Regions from separate parts of the Homo sapiens genome. Here region 1 is linked to region 2. A link means that fine-mapping ties the variant in region 2 to the expression of a gene that starts in the linked region. Tissue or cell type: monocytes after LPS. Region 2 holds a variant in brackets; the other region holds the start of a gene. All regions are shown on one strand. Distances are between the middles of the regions.

Evidence for each region. PIP is the estimated chance that this variant, and not a neighbour inherited with it, causes the effect.
Region 1: it holds the start of RAB35, and the variant in region 2 is fine-mapped to the expression of RAB35 in monocytes after LPS (Quach 2016, PIP 0.91).

Annotation. Positions count from the first base shown.
Region 1 is chr12:120,113,499-120,121,678 of GRCh38, forward strand. RAB35 (RAB35, member RAS oncogene family) reads right to left here and starts at 3,255. Exons shown (of 6, transcript NM_006861.7): 1 at 3,101-3,255. The coding sequence starts at 3,152. RAB35-AS1 (RAB35 antisense RNA 1) reads left to right here and starts at 3,409. Exons shown (of 1, transcript NR_182302.1): 1 at 3,409-5,505. RefSeq lists enhancers at 2,446-3,238, 3,239-4,030, 4,823-5,614, 5,034-5,133, 5,164-5,233 and 2 more and silencers at 2,956-3,085, 3,186-3,495, 3,656-4,005, 4,096-4,155, 4,143-4,321.
Region 2 is chr12:119,968,084-119,976,263 of GRCh38, forward strand. It overlaps LOC112268087 (a long non-coding RNA gene), which reads left to right. Exons shown (of 4, transcript XR_002957391.2): 4 at 6,935-7,114. Among named protein-coding and RNA genes, the nearest start is that of BICDL1, 17 kb to the right of the region's middle. The variant C/CT (reference allele first, on the strand shown) is at 4,805.

The DNA.
Region 1 (8,180 bases), 150 kb after region 2:
TCAGAGAGTATAAGGGAAAGTATAGAAAATACAGAACTGGCCGGGCGCGGTGGCTCACGCCTGTAATCCCAGCACTTTGGGAGGCCGAGGCGGGCGGATCACGAGGTCAGGAGATAGAGACCATACTGGCTAAAATGGTGAAACCCTGTCTCTACTAAAAATACAAAAGATTAGCCGGGCATGGTGGTGGGCACCTGTAGTCCCACCTACTCGGGAGGCTGAGGCAGGAGAATGGCGTGAACCGGGGAGGTGGAGCCGGCAGTGAGCCGAGATCGCGCCACTGCACTCCAGCCTGGGCGACAGAGCGAGACTCCGTCTCAAAAAAAAAAAAAAGGAAAAAAAGAAAATATAGAACCTCCGGCATAACGAAGGGATGCAGAGATTGAGGGAATCCATTGCAGAAGCATCCACAATGTGCAGAGTGGGCAGAACTCTAGATTTATGAAGAAAGAAACCAGCATTCATGGAGGGCCTATTGTTTGCCAGCCCTGACATGAGCTGCTCGCACACGTATTAGCACTGAGATGCAGTGGCTCCCGGCTTTGCCCCTGCTGAGCTATGTGATTTGGGGCAAGTAAGTCACCTCCTCTGAGCCTCAGTTTCCTTTTTTTTAAGACGGAGTTTCATTCTTGTCGCCCAGGCTGGAGTGCAATAGTGCGATCTTGGTTCACTGCAACTTCCGCCTACCAGGTTCAAGCGATTCTCCTGCCTCAGTCTCCCAAGTAGCTGGGATTACAGGCACATTCCACCATGCCCGGCTACTTTTGTATTTTTAGTAGAGACGAGGTTTCATCATGTTGCCCAAGTTGGTCTCAAACTCCTGTCTTCAGGTGATCTGCCCGCCTTGGCCTCCCAAAGTGATGGGATTACAGGCGTGAGCCACCGCGCCCGGCCTTAAGCCTTAGTTTCCTTATTTGACAAATCACACAGGGGGCGGGTGAGAATAAGCGTCTGTGAAATCGTTCAACATATCTTAAGGAGGCATTCACACAAGGAGCCCAGTTCAGGGGAGTGTGTAATGTCAGTCTCTGGGCTCAGCTGCCAAAGCTTAGTCTGGACTTCCATGGCTACCATCTCCCAGCTTTGAGGATCTCAATGTCGGGAGAAATCAAAGAGCACAGCATCCATCTCCTCTGCACAACCTACGCCTACATGGCTGACCTAGGAGCTAGACCACATAAATCTCGACCCAATGAGTCTTCTCCCACACCTGACTTCGGAGAGAAAAATCAATTCATCACACAAAATGTACTGTGAGAAAGCGGGCCAAACCCATCCCCTGGGCTTTACAGAGGAGAAGAGCCAACAAGCTGCATCTTCCTGCTGAGTTTAGGCTTTTCACTGTTGGATATCAACGCAGAGGTCCAGATGTCTTGCAGAGGGATAAAGGCTCCTGACCACGGCGGGCTGTCACTCCAAAAAGAGAGAAATGGCCCCAGTGCCAGTCCCTCAGAACCCAGGCCAGGGCTGCAAGGAAATCATGTAAAGGAAGAAGCCTCAAGACCCTGAAGAATACCAAAGGCCATCTCCAAGAGAACACTCCAGAGCTTGCCTGGTTTCCCTTCATTCAAACCATAACCAGTCAGTACTCCACCTTTCTACCTCCTTCCCCAACCTCAGTTACTCTTCCATCTCCCTGGTTAGCCCCCAGCTTTCCCCCTTACCTCTCCCCTCCTCCAGCAACCACGGAAACCTCAGCCATCCTTCACCTGATCCAAACCACCAACCACATCTCCATCCAGCTTTAAAAGGGAGGCCAAAACCACCCACTTCCCTGACCTAGCTCTGACATCGCTACCCAACACTCCTACATCCCAAGTCATACCGCTCACTTGATTTGATCCCCTTTCCTTAACAGTCCATGGGCTCTACCACCAGCCTGGCCTCTGCCTCCAATCATAAGACATCCCTCCCCACACTCAGCTCAGGTCTGGTCTACAAACTGAGCATGCTCCCAAGACTCTTTCATGAACATCATATAACCCCAGCACCTCAGTTTCGCTCCCATAAACCTTCTGGGGCCTGCCTTCCTGACCTCTTGGTCACTCCATAAACCTGCTCACCTGCCACACTCCAAACAGCTCTAAAACCCTCCACCTTTTCCCAGAAACCAGTCTACCTTTTCGAAGGACACTTAATATTCATTAATTCCTTCTGCAAATATGTCTTAAGCATGTACTGGGTGCCAGGCACTGTTCTAGGCACTGGAGCTAGAGCAGTGATCAGAGCTAGGAGCCCTCAAGCAGTGTGTGTGTGTGGCCAAAGCACTTTTATAATTTTGGCTGTCCCATCCCCAGGACCCCTCTGTATATAGTAGTGTAACAGCAAACAGTGACAACTCACTATGTGCCAGGAGCTGTGAGCAACACTGCAGAATCTCACTTAATACTCACATCAACCCCATAAGGCAGATCCAACTATCATTCCATCTTACAGATGAGGAAACTGAACCACGCAGGGATATAATAATTCAGCAGGAATATGCCAGACCCTGTGCAAAGCCCTTTATCCGACTTACCTCATTTAAACCTCACGGCAATCCCATGAGGCAGGTTCTGAGAACGTCCTCATTTTAGATGGGAAGAAACTGACGCTTATAAAGGATACTGATGATAATGACAATAGTGAACATTTACTTCGAGCTTACTTTACCGGGTAGGGCGCTACGCACTTTTCCTACTTTATCCCATCGAATCCTCACACCACCCAGCAAGGCACATCCCCACTTCTCAGATGAGGGAACTGAGGCTCAGGACGGCGAAGCAACTTGCCCAAGGTCAGCGCGAGGCAGGTGGTAGTCCTGAGACTCGAACCCACGTCTCTCCAACTCCAGAGATCGCGCGACTTGACCAAGGTCACACGTGAGGCAGGAACAGGCGCGATGACTGGACCCGGCGCGCTTGGCCCCTCCGCCCCGCGCCCCAACCTCCCCTCGGCGCGGTCCGGAGCCCCTCGGCGCACCCCTGGGGCCCAGACCGCCGGGCTGCCCCGCCCGCCCGCCCCGCACGGGCCGGCACCTCCCCGCCCGCCTGCCGCCCCGAGGCCCCCGCGGGCCGCGCCCGGCAGGGCCCGCGCCGCCTCCGGCCGCTGCGGCCCTCACCGCTGTCGCCGATGATGAGCAGCTTGAAGAGGTGGTCGTAGTCCCGGGCCATGGCGGGCGGGGGCGGTGCGCGCGGGCGGGCGGGGTCGGTACTGGCCTCGCGATCCGCAGCTCCCTTCGGGCTGCTCCGGCAGCGGCGGATCCACTTCCCGAACAAACAGCCGGAACTGACAGAAACACCTCCCTCCGCTCCCCCTCCTCCTCCTCAGCAGCCGCCGCCGCTACCACCGCCTCCCTCCTTCCCGCCCCGCCCCACCACTGCGCAGGCGCAGCGTCTGGCACCGCCTTGCGCAGCCGCAGCCTGAGCCGGCCGCGCCCGGGTCGCGCACGCGCCCTGACGGAGTCCCAGCAAGCGCGGGCCCGTCTTCCTCGCGTCTCCTCGGGGAGCGTCGTCGCCGCCACCCTGGGCGCTGAGAGCTTGCGGAGCCGAGCCGCTGTCGAGTCCCAGCGGAAAGAAGCCCAAGGTGCCGGAGAAGCCCGGTCGTGGACGTTGTTGCTCCCTCATCTTCGAGACCCGCACGCCCTGCGGAGAGGAAATGACAGGCACGCCGCGACCGTGGGGCGGGGCTCGCACGAGCTCCGGGTTTCCAGAGGCAGGGGCCGGGGCCGTAGAAGGCAGAGTCGCGCGGGGAAGGCCCGGTACCCCGCCCCTTCCGCACCGACCCCTCCCCCGCGGAGCTGGCCCCGGCCCCGGGCCTGTGGAGTGGACGCCGAGGGCGGCGGGCGGCTTCCGAGTTGGACAGAACGGGAGCTGCCGGCGGGAGCAGAGCTGCGAGGAGGTGGCCTTTGAGGGCAGCGCGGGGTCGAAATCCCATCCCAGCGCTGTGACCTCTTGGAGCCCACATTGCCTCTTTGGTGGAGGGGAGGGAGTGGTCCAGCTCCGAGCCGAGCCTGGGAGCTGAATGACCCAGTGTGCAAGGCGCACCTCGGAGACCGAAAGCAACCGCTCCCCCGGCTTCAATTTCACACCACCTGCAGATACACGTCTCAGAATCTGCGGCTAGGAAGACCTGGGCCGCCAGAAGCTAAACGTGTGCATTTTGTCATCAGCCCCGGTTTCTCGTTTTAGAGTGAGTTCCCACCTGCCCTACCTAAACTGACCTGAAACGGAAAGTTGTATGCCCCCACGACCATCCTCACTGCAGAACTGCAGAGGGTTTTAAGCTCCTTATTACCTGTTTCTTATAATCCTGTCCCTTTCCAGGCGAGTATTTATCGGATAGTTCTACTTGTTTTATCAAACTTCCTTTTCTTTTGACTTTATAAAAAGCAATGCCGGGAGGCTGAGGCGGGAGAATCGCTTGAACCCGGGAGGCGGAGGTTGCAGTGAGCTGAGATCTCGCCATTGCACTCCATTCTGGGCAACAAGAGCGAAACTCCGTCTCAAAAAAAAAAAACAATGTTCGTCCTTAAAATTATGTGCAGAAGTTTACTGAAAAGTACAAGTTACTATTTTTCCTTCTGAAGCACTCCTCACAGGTAACCCCTGTTAGTTTCACAGGTAACCTTAAAATGCTTAACACATATTTGTTGAATGAATAAGTGCCCCCCAGTGAATTTCCTTTGCCTGTACAAACATATATGTACATACCTTGCTTTTTCTATTTAACAGTACACTTTTATCATTTAACATCTGCGTGGTATGGTACTCCATCCGATAACCATCGGATGTACTATTATTTAACCACTCCGCTATTAATAGACATTCATGCTGTTTATATTTTTTGGTTATAATAAACATTGTTGCAGGCGGGATCATTGAACAACACATGGAGTGTCTGACTCAAGCCTTGAGTTGTTTTTCCGGGAGCTGAGAATCAGTGTGGTGATATCGAAATAACATGAGCTTGGAATCTGAAGGTACTGGCTAGGGAGAAGAGCTGCTCATGTGCTCCCGATAGAAAGTCCCCCTTGGTCGGGAAGGTTAGGGCCATCCTCTGACTCAGCAGTTTTAGGAAATAGAGGGGGAGAAGGAAGGTATGTACCTTCCTTCCACCAGGGAGGCACGCCCAGCCCTAACCAGCCAGCGAGGCAGTAGGTCCTCCTAGCTCATCTTCACAACCTGGGCTGGTGTCGGGAAGACTTTCGTTCCAATGCTAGCTTTGGAATCCTGGCCTCCATCCCTTAAAAGCTTTGTGATCTTAGGTAAGTCACATCACACTATCTCAAAGCCCCCGTTTCCTCACAGAATGGTTGTTTTAGAGTTATGTTTGTAAATTACCTGGCACATGTAGGCATGTGACAGACTGTAACCAATGTTACTCAAGGTCATTTTGCACTGATTCATACTTTGAGCCATTTCCTACTGTAGACTCTAGCACACATTTTCAAGGCAGCTTCCTGATAATAAGGCTGTAGGATATTTTTGGGAAATAAATCCAAATTGGCCATTAAAACCAGATTCCTGACTTTGCCTGCATGTGTCATCTGGAAAGCAATCGGCATAAATTCCTTCATTTCTTTGGTAACTATTTAATGAGTGTTTATGTGCCACGGATTGCAGAGGTTATAAGAAGAGAGCCTTAGGCCGGGCGCTGTGGCTCACACCCATAATCCCAGCACTTTGGGAGGCTGAGGCGGGAGGATCACGAGGTCAGGAGTTCAAGACCAGCCTGGCCAAGATGGTGAAACCCCATCTCTACTAAAAATAAAAAAAATTAGCCGGGCACGATGGCAGGCGCCGGTAATCCCAGCTACTCGGGAGGCTAAGGCAGGAGAATCGCTTGAACCCGGGTGGCAGAGGTTGCCGAGATTGCACCACTGCACTCCAGCCTAGGCGACAGAGCAAGACTCCGTCTTAAAAAAAAAAAAAAAAAAAAAGGAACAGAGCCTTTTCTCACCAGTTCACAGCCTCATCAAGAGTTAAGACATACTCATGAGGAAATTGAAAGTATAAGACAATACAGTAGATAGAAAAGCTGTCAGATATGCAGTCTAGACTTCAGAGGAGGAAAGCTATAGCTTTTAGTTAGAATGATGGGGAGAAGATTTTATCATAAAGATGTCATGATGGCACTGGAATAGGAGAGCTTTGAGTGTCTATTTAGACAGTCCCTGTCACAGTCTATGAGAATCATCATTTGGCTTGGAGGGGAATTCCCTGCAGGCCAGGGTATGTGCCTGGCATCTCAAAATGAATCAGCACATTTTCTTCTGGAAACATTGTTAGACATTTATTTAAACTACAGTTCAGTGATGAGTTATGTTAAGCTTTCTTTCTCCTTCTCACTGTATACATATGTAAACTTGTGTGACCTAAAGGATCAGTGTGTCCAGTAATGGGAAACTTTGTTCCACTGCTCTGAACAGCTAACTTACAGATGAACTTTTGCAACACCACCTGTTTGCACATTAGAAACTATTAATACGATGAGGAGGCATTGAAAGTTTTTGAGCAAAGAGGCAATCTCAAAATATTTTAGTGAAGTAATCTGGCAGGGTGCAGGATGGATTTCAGCTGCAGAGCTTTAAAGGTTATTGCTGAAGCCTGGGTGTAAGGTAACAGCAGGGACAGATGCAAAAGACAATAAGCAAACTTATAAACTAGACAAAGCAGCTTCCAAAAAAAAAAATCACGTAATTTACCTGGTAACTGGATTCATCCTTAATTCAGTAAATATTAAGTGGCCGGGTGCAGTGGCTCACGCCTGTAATCCCAGCACTTTGGGAGGCCGAGGCGGGTGGATCATGAGGTCAGAAGATCAAGACCATCCTGGCTAACATGGTGAAACCCCATCTCTACTAAAAATACAAAAGAATTAGCTGGGTGTGGTGGCACACGCCCGTAGTCCCAGCTACTCGGGAGGCTGAGGCAGGAGAATCACTTGAACCTGGGAGGTGGAGGTTGCAGTGAGCCAAGATCGCATCATTGCACTCCAGCCTGGGTGACAGAGCGAGACTCCATCTCAAAAAAAAAAAAAAAAAAAAATTTGCACAGTTACTAGGTGTTAGGCACTGTAGTGGGCACAGAGGCTAGAACATGAACAAAACAAAGCTCCTGTCCTCACGGAGTTTACAGTTTAGTGGGGAACAAGTCATTCACTCATTCAACAAATACTTGAGGGCCTACTATGCCAGACATTGATCTACGAGCTGAGGATTCAGCAGTAAGTAAAATTTTAAAATCCCAGCTTTCATAGAGCTTATATTCTGATAGAGAATACAGGCACCAAGTATGTCCAAGGAGAAAAGTAAAGCAGGGAGCACGCTGAGGTTTGCAGAAGCAGGCAGTGGAGCCACAGAGGTGGCAGGAAGTTTGGCAGTGGATGACAAGAGAAACAATGCTTGGTGGTGAGAGCAGTGGGGCTCATGAAGTATTTTTCAGGATAGTGGAAGCAGAGGATTAGCAGCCAGGAAATAATAAGGAGTGAATATTTGGAGGGAAGATGAGCTAAGGGCGCTTCAAAGAGCTTTGGGAAGTAAAGTGTCACCAACCAGAAGGCTAAGTGGGTAAAGGAGAGGGGGACCTCAGGCCCTCAAGGGTAGCAGTGTCAGGGATGAAGATCAGTGCAGTGGAGGTTGGAGGGACCTGTGAAATCCATTATTTCAGACAGCAACATGGACTTCAAAGCTGCTGAGTGCTAGGTAGCAAGGGAGGGAACGTGTGCTGTGATCATCCAGGAAGGAAGCAGTGGGTGGTGAATCAGAACTCAGAGAAGGCAGGTAAACTGACCGACAGGGACTTTAAATTAGGAGCAAGATGGGGACCACTCAGCATACTGGTCCAAGAGGGAAGGAAGAGAGGATATGATATGATGCCTGGTGTCTCCCTCTGATGGAAGTGGAAACGGGCCCTTTCTCCCACACCTGCAAGCCTGATGCCACACCAAGAGACTTGGCAGTGGGCCTTGCCCTGCCCTGATGTAGCCCCCAGAAATCAAGTGAATGTAAGTTCCATGATTCCAGGGACCATCTCTTTATCTGTATCCTCTGGAGACCCAGTGCCTGGTAGGTGCTTGATACCTGTTGAATTAAAGTGAAGCCACACACACAGTGTGAGAGTTGGACAGAATGTCAGATACAATTAGTTGAACCCTCTCTTGAGTTCACTTTTTGGGGTGTGGGCCAAACTTGGGGTCTA
Region 2 (8,180 bases):
ACAAGTAATGTACTCTTCACTCTTCTCCAGGTAGCTTCAAAATAGAAAAGCTTCCCCTCGCACCTGTAGCCCCAGCTACTCGGAAGCTGAGGTGGGATGATCGCTTGAGCCTGGGAGGTTGAGGCTGCAGTGAGCTGTGATCTCACCACTGTACTACTACAGGCTGGGCGACAGCGTGAGACCCTGTCTCAAAAACAAACAAACAAGCAAACAAACAAACAAAAAGCTCCTTCCTTCCTTAGGAAATTGTCAAAGGTCGGTTTCCTATAGTAACAGTTTGTGGTCACACCAAATTTGGAACCTGTATTACACAAGAGTCTAATGAGATTCCACAACCTAGCTTGAGTCCTGCAGACTTAATCTTAGCCTTTGAGTCAAATTCCATTCGTATAAAAAGAAAAGTAATTTTTAACATGGAAGTTGCAGCTGTCTTTGATATAAAATTGTATCCTTCACTTTTCACTTTCAAAACTTCCTCTCACTGAAACAAACTATCCAGATTTATTTTTAGACATCTCAAAGAAGCCCAGTTACCGTAATAACCTAAGTGTTAAATTAAAGGCAAGAACTTTCTGTAAATATTGTTACTACAGGTTGACGTAAATTACCAATATAGCAGATAAGCTTAAGTCATCACAGATTAAATTCTGCTTTTATGGTTAATTATAATAGAATGATAAGCTTATTTGTGTATCATTTATTCAAATCTGGACGTTCATCAGAACCACACCCAAACCATCCTATTTAAACCACATTCGAGCCTACCACCCCAATTTTTAAAAGCAGCCCACAGCCTGTAAAGTCGGTAAATAATTCTAGTGTCTGGACTGGGCTTAGTGGCTCATGCCTGTAATCCCAGCACTCTGGGATGCCAAGGTAGGTGGATCGCTTGAACCCAGTAGTTCAAGACCAGCCTGGGCAACATGGTGAAACCTGGTCTCTACAAAAAATACAAAAATTAGCCAGGCGTGGTGGTGGGCACCTGTAGTCCTAGCTTCTTAGGAGGCTGAAGTGGGAGGATCACCTGAGCCTGGGAGGTCAAGGCTGTGGTGAACCATGATTGTGCCACTGCACTCCAGCCTGAATGACAGAGTGAGACCCTGCCTCAAAAATAAATAAAATAAAATAAATAATAATTCTAGTGTCTGGCAACCAGCATTTCAGAGAATGTTCTTTGATATTTAATAAAATCCTTCAGTGCAATTAAAGAGTAATTGAGGCTGGGCACAGTGACTCACACCTGTAATCCTAGCACTTTGGGAGGCTGAAGCAGGTGGATCACTTGAGGTCAGGAGTTCGAGACCGGCCTGGCCAACATGGTGAAACCCTGTCTCTACTAAAAATACAAAAAATTAGCTGGAAATTGCTTGAACCCAGGAGGTGGAGGTTGCAGTGAGCCGAGCTTGGGCCACTGCATTCCAGTTTGGGCGACAGAGCAAGACTTCATCTAAAAAAAAAAAAAGAAAAGAGTAATTGATCACCACCTTCTATAAAATAACAGAGTATGTTATTACTTCTCTCAGGTTAGATAATCCTATTCACTCACATTTTCTTTGTAAGTTCCATTTAGCAATTTTATCCATATTTTGTGAGTCTCTGAACCATTGGCTCGTTTTGGTGTCATGTATTAACACATAATTAGTAACAAAATAAATGGCGACTAGTCCAGCTCCCTGCTTCGGTTCCCCTGGGCCAAGCCTGATTTTGCTCCAGTAGAAACAGTCAGTGCCTGTCCCAGGCTTTGATCAGCTTCATTCATTCAGTCAGTGCCTGTCCCAGGCTTTGATCAGCTTCATTTCATGTTATTATTTCTGCCCCCCAAGCCCTGAAATATCTTATATAGTGGTTATCACCCATGCCTGATCCCCTAATTTAGCCCCAGAATTTCCCCAGTCTCATCCAAACTCCTGAAAATGGCATAAAATTCTCTTTCTGTCATTGGCCTATAATTTCTTTTTCTTTTCTTTTTTTTTTTTTTTTTTTTTTTTTTTTTGAGACAGAGTCTCCCTCTGTCTCCCAGGCTGGAGTGCAGTGGCAAGATCTCAGCTCACTACAACCTCTACCTGCTGGGTTCAAGTGATTCTCCTGCCTCAGCCTCCCAAGTAGTTGGGATTACACGCATGCACCACCAAGCCTGGCTAATTTTTGTATTTTTAGTAGAGATGGGATTTCACCATGTTGGCCAGGCTGGTCTTGAACTCCTGACCTCAGGTGATCCGCCCTCCTTGGCCTCCCAAAGTGCTGGGATTACAGGCGTGAGCCACCGTGCTCAGCCTTGGCCCAGAATTCTTAAAAGGGACAATAGAGAAAACAACAGACAAAGTGACAACAAACAGGCCTCGTATGACCTAAAAGTTTTGTCCCTTTTGGCCTCTCTCAGTCAATTAAATTCTACAACTTAAGAGCTTTGCTTTGGATGTTGACAATAAATTTCTAGGAAGGTTAAAACATATGCATATGTAATCCACAGCCGTTATCAGTAATGACTGCATTGACATCAATAAATTTCTCATATTGACATCATAAATGTCTTTACTGACATCATAAATTTCTCAAACAGTAACTTTACTGGGTTGTGGGAAGCCCGGATCTTAGGGTACTACCTGGGGTTGGGGGTGATTTGTCTCACCATAGTAGAAAATCTGGAGGGTGTAGCGTGCTTGGAAGCAGGGGAAGAGGCACCAAAAGAAGAGGTGAGAAGACAACCAAAATAAATCTTTCATAATGTTTTTTTTTTTTTGAGACGGAGTCTCACTCTGTCACCCAGGCTGGAGTGCAGTGACATGATCTCGGCTCACGGCAACCTCTGCCTCCCAGGTTCAAGCGATTCTCCTGCCTCAGCCTCCCAAGTCGCTGGACTACAGGTGCCCGCCACACACCCAGCTAATTTTTGTATTTTTAGTAGAGATGGGGTTTTGCTGTGTTGGCCAGGCTGGTCTCGAACTCCTAACCTCAGGTGATCCACCTGCCTCGGCCTCCCAAAGTGTTGGGATTACAGGCATGAGCCACCATGCCCAGATGAATCCTTCACAATTTTATTTATACTTTGAGAATAAGAGTTATGCAAGCTGGGGCCGGGTGCAGTGGCTTATGCCTATAAATCCCAGCAATTTGGGAGGCCAAGGCAGGAGAACTGCTTGAGTCCAGGAGGTTGAGGCTGCAGTGAGCCACGTTTGTGCCACTGCACTTCAGCCTGGGCAACAGAGTGAGACCCTGTCTAAAAGAAGAAGAAAAAAAAAGTTGTGCAAGCTGGGCATAGTGGTGTGCCTGTAGTCTCAGCTACTTGGGAGCCTGAGGTAGGAGGACTGCTTGAGCCCAGGAGTTTGAGGCCACCCTGGGCTACATGATGAGACCCTGTCATTCCCCCACCACACACACACACACACACACACACACACACACACACACACACACACACAGAATTATGCAGATTTCAACAGAAAAGAAGCTTGCCTATGTGCTCTATGAGGTCAGACTTTGCCTATTAAGAGATTTCATAAGGTAATAATACCTTGGAGAATTTGTCATCAATAACAAGATTCAACATTTATATAGTAGTTGTTATGTGCCTGGCCATGGTCTGAAAGTCTTAGAAATCTGATTTTGGGGCCAGACGTGGTGGCTCACGCTTGTAATCCCAGCACTTTGGGAGGCTGAGGAAGGCGGATCATGAGGTCAGGAGTTCGAGACCAGCCTAGCCAACATAGTGAAACCCCGTCTCTATAAAAATACAAAAAAATTAGCCGGGTGTGATGGTGGGCACCTGTAATCCCAGCTACTCGGGAGGCTGAGGCAGGAGAATTGCTTGAACCCGGGAGGTGGAGGTTGCAGTGAACCAAGATTGTGCCACTGCACTCCAGCCTGGGCAACAGAGTGAGACTCCATCTCAAAAAAAAAAAAAATGAAATCTGATTTGCTAGCACATGCCTGTGGTCCCAGCCACTCGGGAGGCTGAGGTGGGAGGATCACTTAAGTCCAGGAGGCAGAAGCTGTAGTGAGATATGATCGCATCACTGCAGTCCAGCCTGAGGGACAGAGTGAGACCCTGTCTCAAAAGAGAAAGAAAGAAAAAGTAGAATGACCATATGATCTGGCTATTCTACTTCTGAGTATAAAACCAATAGAAAGCAGGACTCAAGAGATATCTGAACACCCATGTTCATAGCTGTATTGTTCACACTAGTCAAAACATAGAAGCGGCCGGGCGGGTGGCTCACGCCTGTAATCCCAGCACTTTAGGAGCTCAAGGTGGGCGGATCACGAGGTCAGGAGATCGAGACCATCCTGGCTAACACTGTGAAACCCCCCTCTCTACTAAAAATACAAAAAAATTAGCCAGGCATGGTGGTGGGTGCCTGTAGTCCCAGCTACTCGGGAGGCTGAGGCAGGAGAATGGCGTGAACCCATGAGGTGGAGCTTGCAGTGAGCCAATATTGCGCCACTGCACTCCAGCCTGGGTGACAGAGTGAGACTCCATCTCAAAAAAAAAAAAAAAAGAAGTAGAAGCAACCCAAGTGTTCATGACAGACAAACTGATAAACTACGATATACACATACAATGGAATACTATTTAGTCTTAAAAAGGAAGGAAATTCTGACATATGCTGCAATATGGTTGAACCTCTAGGACATTATGCTAATTGAAATAAGCCAGTCACAAAAGGGCAAATACTGTATAATTCCACTTATATATGAAGTACCTAGACTCAAATTCCTAGAGACAGAAAGTAGAATGGTGGTTGTCAGGGCTGGAGGGAAAAGGAAAAGGGGAGTTACTGTTTAATGGGGACAGAATTTCAGGTTT[C/CT]TTTTTTTTTTTTTTTTTTTTTGAGATGGAGTTTCACTCTTGTTGCCCAGGCTGAAGTGCAATGGAACGATCTCAGCTCATTGTAACCTCCGCCTCCCAGGTTCAGGTGATTCTCCTGCCTCAGACTCCCGAGTAGCTGAGACTACAGGCACACACCACCACGCCCGGCTAATTTTTGTATTTTTAGTAGAAACAGGGTTTCACCACGTTGGCCAGGCTGGTCACGAACTCCTGACCTCAGATGATCCGACCGCCTCAGCTTCCCAAAATGCTGGGATTACAGGCGTGAGTCACCGCGCCCGGCCAGAATTTCAGTTTTGCAATATGAAAAGAGTTCTGTGTATGAATTTTGGTGACGGTAGCACAACAATATGAATATCCCTAACTAATGAACTACACCTAAAAATGGTTAAGATGGGGCCAGGTGTGGTGGCTCATGCCTGTAATCCCAACACTTTGGGAGGCTGAGCAGGTGGATCACTTGAGTTCAGGAGTTCAAGACCAAGCCTGGCCAACATGGTGAAACACCATCACTGCCAAAAATACAAAAATTAGCTGGGCATGGTGGCACATGCCTATAGTCCCAGCTACTGGGAAGACTGAGGCAGGAGAATTGCTTGAACCTGGGAGGCAGAGGCTTCAGTGAGTCGAGATTGTGCCACTGCACTCCAGCCTGGGTGACAGAATGAGACTTCATCTCAAAAACAAAAACAGGGGCTGGGCACGGTGGCTCATGCCTGTAATCCCAGCACTTTGGGAGGCCGAGGCAGGCAGATCACGAGGTCAGGAGTTCGAGACCAGCCTGATCAACATGGTGAAACCCTCTCTCTACTAAAAACACAAAAACATTAGCCGGGCGTGGTGGCATGCACCTGTAATCCCAGCTACTCAGGAGGCTGAGGCAGGAGAACTGCTTGAACCCAGGAGGCAGAGGTTGTAGTGAGCCAAGATCACGCCATTGCACTCCAGCCTGGGCAACAGAGTGAGACTCCGTCTCAAAAAAAAAAAAAAAAAGAGATGAAGGAAGGGAGGAGGGGAGAGAGGGAGGGAGGGAGAGAGGGAGAGAGGGAGGGAGGGAGGGAGGGAGGGAGGGAGGGAAGGGAAGGGGAAAAAAGGCCAGAAGGAAGGAAGGGAAAGAAAGAAGGGGGAAAATAAAAAAGGCCAGGCGCGGTGGCTCACGCCTGTAATTCCAGCACTTTGGGAGTTCGAGGCAGGCAGATCATGAGGTCAGGAGTTCGAAACCAGCCTGGCCAACATGGTGAAACCCCGTCTCTACCAAAAATACAAAAAAATTAGCTGGACATAGTGGTGCGCGCCTGTAATCCCAGCTACTCGGGAGGCTGAGGCAGGAGAATCACTGAACCTGGGAGGCAGAGGTTGCAGTGAGCTGAGATCAGGCCACTGCACTCCAGTCTGGGCGACAGAGCAAGACTCCGTCTCAGAAAAAAAAAAAAAAAAAAAAAAAAAAAAAGCTTCTCTATGATGACTTATGCCTTTTGTTTTTTGTTTTCAAACCTGAGCTGTTTTCACAAGGCCAATACATCAGCTCCTATATTTGCCCTCATATTGTAGTGTAACCGGTTTGTCCTGTTGAATTTCATCCAGTATGAGACTCCCTATTTTTTTTTTTTTTTGAGGCGGAGTTTATTCTGTCACCCAGGCTGGAGTGCAGTGGCGCGATCTCAGCTCACTGCAACCTCTGCCTCCCGGGTTCCAGTGATTCTCCTTCCTCAGTCTCCCAAGCACCAGGGACTAGGGACTACAGGCGTGCGCCACCACACTCAGCTGATTTTTGTATTTTTAGTAGAGACAGGGTTTCACCATATTGGCCAGGCTGGTGTCGAACTCCTGACCTCGTGATCCACCCGCCTCGGCCTCCCAAAGTCCTAGGATTACAGGCGTCAGCCACCACGCCCTGCCTGAGACTCCCTATTATATGGTGTCATTGTATCAGCTATACCATAGAAATGTGCAACACGGAACACAGCATCTCAAAAATACAAACAACATTGTTACTACTTGCCAATTAAAAGAACAGACTTTCAATCAAGTTTCATGGTTGATAAACAAAGCAATTGGATATTGGGTTGACATTAACTTTGACAATTTTAACATACTTGTTTTTTTTAGATCTGCAAGAAATACATCTACCAGCTGGGTGCAGTTGAACAAAATCATTACAGGATTAGCAGTTTTCTGACCCACTTACTAAAAAGAAGCTGAATCACTGAATTGAGACCCCAGGGAAATGCAGATTTATACCTTTGATGTATTTCTTGATTTTTCTTAAATTAAATTCTATAATCAGTTTTTGAGTCTTTGCCATCTATCTTTTAATTGGGTGATTTCATATGTCTTCTTGAATATAAGCCTTTTCAAAGTTTTGATTTTCTGTAAATGCAAATGCATAATAAAACATACATATAGCTTTGTTCTATGCAATTATTTTCTAAACCCATCAGGAAGGCCTGCTTCTTTCCATCATCCCTTCCTTTATTAGATAGGGAGTGGGTGGGAGAAGTTGGCTGTCAGGAAAAGGAGTCCCATGCACTTTGATGTAGATGGGAGTTGAGGAAAATGGGGAAATGGTCACTTGATCCACAGGCACAGAACCCTGTTCAGTTCCCTGTCCCACTGCCAGATCTACCCCAATGGTTTTCCAAACATGGGACGATCTTCCTCCTCCTGTCAAGTGTTCTCATTTCTTCTCCTGCATCAATTGTAGTTTTCTCTAGGATGCTTTCTGCTGGATGAGGAAGAACTTTGCATTTTCAATCCCACTGATACATTTGTCATCAACTCACTCTTTTTTTGTTTGTTTTGTTTTGTTTTGTTGAGACAGGGTCTCATTCTGTCACCCAGGCAGGAGTGCAGTGGTGCAATCTCTGCTCACTGCAGCCTCAACCTCCTGGGCTCAAATGATCTTCCCACCTCAGCTTCTCAAAGTACTGGGATTACAGGCATGAGCCACCGTGTCTGTGTGAACAACTCGCTCTCATCATTGCTATGTATATTGATTTCACGCTTGCCTTTTTCCCTATATAGGTGAGAGGTCCTTGGCCATAGCCAAATCAAAGGGCCTAATTATCTGATTCTTGCTATTTTTCCAGTTTTCCTGTTTCTGGCAAGACACCATCATTCTGTTTGTTGTCCACATTGGTAACCTCAGAGGCATCTCTGAATCCTCCTTTTTCTTCATTCTCACTCTCTAATAGCTGATCAGACTCCAAATTTAGCAATTATTTCTCTTGTTTATAACATCTCTGACCTCTGTCTTCCATTCCATCAGAACTTCCATATAGATTCTTCCAGCAGTATTGTAATTGTTCTCCCCGACTCCTGACTCTCACCTTGAATCTATCTTTCACACCAGTGC